Linked DNA regions of Homo sapiens: region 1 is linked to region 2. The links come from fine-mapping of genetic effects on gene expression. A gene starts in region 2. The other region holds a variant in brackets. All regions are shown on one strand. Distances are from middle to middle.

Region 1 (2,918 bases), 38 kb before region 2:
ACCATTGTGCAAAGGCACATGTGGCATTACTAACGATTTTGTTTCATATTAATGGCTCTGACTCCATAGTGAATAAAATTTCCCAACGGATATAAATAGTCACTCACATACAAGGAATAATTACTATAGGATGTATAGGAACAGTGGTCAATAACACTATGATTTATTCACCCAAAAGATCATGTTAAAGGTTATATTAATATAATTTCCTGTTTAGAGTTCCTTTCATCCAAAAAGCTCAAAACCATTTTATAAACCTCATTTATCTTCACAAATAAAGTGTGTGAATATTAAATATTACCATTTTCAAATTGCATAAGGGCTAATTTGCAGTAAGAGCGAGGGAAAGGGTTCCACAGTATAGCTAGCCCAAAGAATGCCTGGGGAGCCAAGTTAAGTCAGACATACTTTCTGGTATATGCCCATCTATGAGTACCCCTTTACTCTTATAAAGCAGTACTGTCAATCTTAGGGGGACCTCAGAATTATCTAAATGGTATTGCTATAGTTTACAGAGGAAGAAACAAAGACCCTGAGAAGTGGTGACCTGCCCATGTCACGTGGCTGAGCCCAGCTCAGAGCCAGGTCAGTAGGCTCAGAGGTGATGCTGAATCCCTGGACCACCCCTTCCTCCCATCCTCAATGCTCCCCAAGTGTGGCACAGCCTCTGGAAGCTAAGCTGATCCACATGTTTAGTGATTCTTTCAAGTAGCAGCTCACTCTCAATCACAGTGTCCATTTTTTATTTCAAATTAATAGCTAACAAGTATTACAAGGCACATATGGAACATCTAGTGATCAAAATTACATACTAGGGTCTCTGATTTTAAAATTTCAAACTTTTTTTCATTATGAAAGATGTCGTGCTAGTGTAAAGGTGATTCTAGCAATCAGATTTTTGGTGGATCTATGTATTATAGTTACACTGCTAGTTTTTTATTTTTGTTTTTATTTTTATTTTTTTGAGACAGAGTCTTGCTCTGTCACCAGGCCGGAGTGCTGTGGCACAATCTAGGCTCGCTGCAATCTCCGACTCCGTGGTTCAAGCAATTCTCCTGCCTTGGCCCCCTGAATAGCTGGGATTACAGGCATGCGCCACCATGTCCAGCTAATTTTTTGTATTTTTAGTATAGATGATGTTTCACCGTGTTAGCCAGGATGGTCTCGATCTCCTGACCTCGTGATCTGCCCACCTCAGTCTCCCAAAGGGCTGCTGGGATTACAGGGATGAGCCAC[C/T]GTGCCCGGCCTTACTGCTAGTTTATTCTTTTTTTTCTCTTTTTTTGAAATGGAGTCTCGCTGTCACCCAGGCTGGAGTGCAGTGGTGCGATCTTGGCTCACTGCAACCTCTGCCTCCCGGGTTCTCCTGCATCAGCCTCCTGAGTAGCTGGGATTACAGGTGCACACCATGTTGCCCGGCTAATTTTTATATTTTTAGTAGAGACGGGGTTTCACCATGTTGGCCAGGCTGGTCTCAAACTCCTGACCTCAGGTGATCCACCCATCTTGGCCTCCCAAAGTACTGGATTACAGGCATGAGCCACCACGCTGGGCCAGTTTATTCTTGCTCTAAAGTCTGACTTGATAATTCTCTATTTTGTTTTATTTTCTCTGTATCTTTCTTTACAAATAAACCCTTTTCACTAAATACAAGTGAATACTTTCTGCGAAACCGTTCAACACAGAAGAGTTTTAGGCTACTGTTACCACTCATTTCTTACTGTCAATGATTTTTTACCGTTATATTTTTATCTCCCTTGTATCCCCTCTATGTTTAACACAGAGGGCATACATACCCACCCGAGGCAGGAGAATCGCTTGAATGCGGGAGGCAGAGGTTGCAGTGAGCTGAGATGATGCCACTGTACTCCAGCCTGGGCAACAGCAAGATCCTGCCTCAAAAAAAGAAGTGTTCCAGGTCAGGCGCGGTGGCTCATGCCTGTAATCTCAGCACTTTGAGAGGCCAAGGCAGGTAGATCACGAGGTCAGGAGATTGAGACCATCCTGACTAACATGGTGAAACCCTGTCTCTACTAAAAATACAAAAATAAAATTAGCCGGGCGTGGTGGCGGGTGCCAGTAGTTCCAGCTACTTGGGAGGCTGAGGCAGGAGAATGGCATGAACCCGGGAGGCAGAGGCTGAAGTGAGCTGAGATTGCGTCACTGCACTCCAGCCTGGGCAACATAGCGAGACTCCGTCTCAAAAAAAAAACAAAAGAAAGAAAAGAAAGGTGTTCCAGATTTCTGGTTTTTTTCAGAGTTTGAAATACTTGCATACGTATAATGAGATATCTTGGGGATGAGATCCAAGTCTAAACACAAAATCCATTTATGTTTCATATACAGTTTATATACATAGCCTGAAGGTAATTTTATACAATTTTTATTTTATTTTATTACTTTATGTCTGAGATGGAGTTTCACTCTTGTTGCCCAGGCTGGAGTGCTCGGCTCACTGCAACCTCTGTCTCCCGGGTTCAAGCAATTCTCCAGCCTCAGCCTCCCGAGTAGCTAGGATTACAGGCGCCTACCACCATGCCTGACCAATTTTTGTATTTTTAGTAGCGACGGTGTTATGCCATGTTGGCCAGGCTGGTCTGGAACTACTGACCTCAGGTGATCCACCCGCCTCAGCCTCCCATGTGCTAGGATTACAGGTGTCCAGCCAACATAAGTTTAATTTTGTTTTGTTTTTTTCAGACAGTCTCACTCTGCCACCTAGGCTGGAGTGCAGTGGCACAATCTCAGCTCATTGCAACCTCTGCCTCCCAAGCTGAAGCAATTCTTGTGCCATAGCCGCCTGAGTAGCCGGGATTATAGGCGTGTGGCCCAGGCTCAAGCAATTCTCATGCCACAGCCTCCCAAGTAGCTGGGATTACAGGCGTGCGCCACCATACCCAGCTAATTTTTGTATTTTTTAA
Region 2 (2,918 bases):
ATCACACAGCAAGTAAACAGGCCAATTTTTAAAATGAGCTAGGGCTGGGAGGTGGCCCACAGCCTGTAATAAAAACACTCTAGGAGGCCAAGGTGGATGGATCACTGAGCCCAGAAGTTCGAGACCAGCCTGGGCAACAATGCAAAACCCTGTCTCTACAAAAAATACAAAAATTAGCTGTGGTGGTGTGCGCCTATAGTCCCAGCTACTCAGCAGGCTGAGGTAGGAGGACTGCTTGATCCCAGGGAGGTCGAGGCTGCAGTGAGCTGTGATGGGGCTACTGCACTCCAGCCTGGGTGACAGAGTGATACCCTGTCTCAAAAAAAAACAAATTTTTTAAAGCTAGATTTAAAAATTCGTCTAGACCAATTACCCTGTAAAATATGAAGGGAAAATAAATTCATTATTCTGACTTTATGATGTGACAGTAGGAGTGGCATGTTTTTACACACTTCTGTTCAAAAGAGGGGCTTCACCTCTGCTTCCTCTACAATGAGCACCTTGCTTTTCAGACAGTTCTCTGCCATCTACTGAAAGAATTCTTCCTCCCAAATAATTATGACCCTCCCTCGTCCAGTCCCATGGACACTTTGGGAAGAAAAAGAGACCATACATACACTTAAGTTTCCCATGTAGATTTTTAAAATACTCCTCCAGATATAATGTCACATATAAAGCTTCTGATCATTTACTGGTTGATAAAGATACAAATTATTCTATCTTTTGTATCTCATTAAACAGCAACAAATGCAAATAGCAATTAACATGTTTTATTAGCTGCCTGCTCCCAATTAACGTGTGAACTAGTCCCAATACCTAGTAAACTACTCTTTGTAGTCCAAACAGCTAGAGGCATAGCAGGTGTGCAAAATCTCTGAATGACTAAAACTGTCGTTTTGGATACATGTTAACTTAGGTAAATAGCAAGAAAATCACAGCAAGTAACAGCAGGGCTGTTTAGCCCAAATATTCTTGAACAAATTTAAAACAGGTATCATTCAAGGATAACTCAGAGGAGTGTACAAAGTTGGAAGGAAAAGAAAAAACTAATGAACATTTCTACGTGCTGCAGCAAAGGCTCTACATACATTCTCGAAACTAACCCTCACAGCTCTATGAAGTATGACTATGGTGAGCGCTATTTTACAGAATAAGCTAAGATTTAGAGATATTTAATGACCCAAAGTCACAAAGCTTTAAGTGGACGCGCCAGACTGTCACTCAGATCTGTCGGATTCCGAGGGCTGTGCTCCTAACCCCACTATACCATCTGTCTCATACTTCGGAAGTCAGACGTTTTTCAACTGGCTAGGATAAAAGCGGCCAACGCTTCAATCCCACATCCCTCCCATCCCACGGCTCCCACTTGAGAGCTTCCCCACTGTCTCCTGGCAAGCAGCTCGCGCTGAGGAGGACCCGGGCTGGTGATCGATCGGCCCCCACCCAGGTAATTAGAGGGGTAACCAGGAAGAGTGAGAGGCCGAGACAGTACCACCCTCATCACGGGACCCTTTCACCCCAACGCTCCCCGGGGCTGAGACCCAGCGCACTTACACTACTCGATCCAGAGTGTCCATCGCTACCGCTACCTGCAACTCTTAACCAGGGGGCATGCACGTGCCCTCGGCGATTACGTGCGCCGGAACAGGCGGAACCGGAAGCTGCGCGTAACGCCACTTCCGGGGACGGCCTCGTAGAGGGCGTCTAGAGGCGCTGGCGGCCATCTTGATTGGAATCGCGCCCTGTTGTCTTGGTTACGGATTTTTGCCCCGGCTCTTTCCTGGAGTTACAGGTGCGAGGTAATACTTTTAAGTAACACTGGCCGGGCGTGGTGGCTCACGCCTGTAATCCCAGGATTTTGGGAGGCCCAGGCGGGCGGATTACCTGATAACAGGAGTTCGAGACCAGCCTGGCCAACATGGCGAAACCCCGTCTCTACTAAAAATACAAAAATTAGCCGGGCGTGGTGGCGGGCGCCTCTAACCCCAGCTACTCGGGAGGCTGAGGCAGGGAGAACTGCTTGAACCCGGGAGGCGGAGGTTGCAGTGAGCGGAGATCGCGCCACTGCACTCCAGCCTGGGTGACAGAGCGAGACTTCGTCTCAAAAATAAAATAAAAATAAAATAAAATAACATAGACCCTCGCAGTTTGATGTACGCGCTAGTGTGCATACCTGGAGTCAGGTATTCAGAAACCAGATTTTATTCTTCAAGGAATCCCAGGATGCTAGAAAGGTTGATTGATTGCACGGTAGGTACTCACATAAGCACTAAAAACATTGATGTGAAAGGGGCACTATTGACAACTATGCGATCTGTGTGACAGAATTTATGACTACCACAGTTGCCTAGTACATAAAAGATGCGCAGAAAATGTACTGCTGTTCGTGATTTTTCCCCAGTTTTTAAGTTACCATATACTTCACATACCATAAAATGTACCCCTTTACAGTGTACAATTCAGTGATTTTTGGTGTATTCACAAAGATGTGCAAATATCACCACTAATTCCAGAATATTTAATCACCTCAAAAAGAACCCCCCTGACACACACACCCAGTAGCAGTCCATGCCCCACTTCCCCCTCCTGCCAGCCCTTGGCAACCAATAATCTACTTTATGTTCAATGGATTTGCCTATTCTGAACATATATAAATGGTTTCGTGCAACGTATGGCCTTTTGTGTTTGACTTCTTTCACTATCTTTTTGAGGTTCATACATGTAGCGTGGATCAGTACTTCCATTTTGTTAGGACTGAATAATATTCCTTTGTATGGATATACCACATTTTGTTTATCCATTTATCAACCTAGGTACTTTTTTTATTTTAGACATAGTCTTGCTCTGTCGCCAGGGCTGAAGTGCAGTGGTGCGATCTTGGCTTACTGCGCCGTCCACCTCCCGGGTTCAAGCAGTTC

The links. PIP is the estimated chance that this variant, and not a neighbour inherited with it, causes the effect.
Region 1: its variant is the best candidate, but not a certain one, in a credible set for the expression of RPF2 in esophagus mucosa (GTEx, PIP 0.52).

The regions. Positions count from the first base shown.
Region 1 is chr6:111,019,214-111,022,131 of GRCh38, reverse strand. All of the region lies in intron 8 of RPF2 (ribosome production factor 2 homolog), which reads right to left. Among named protein-coding and RNA genes, the nearest start is that of RPF2, 39 kb to the right of the region's middle. The variant C/T (reference allele first, on the strand shown) is at 1,237.
Region 2 is chr6:110,980,766-110,983,683 of GRCh38, reverse strand. It overlaps RPF2 (ribosome production factor 2 homolog), which reads right to left and starts at 1,646. Exons shown (of 10, transcript NM_032194.3): 1 at 1,555-1,646. The coding sequence starts at 1,577.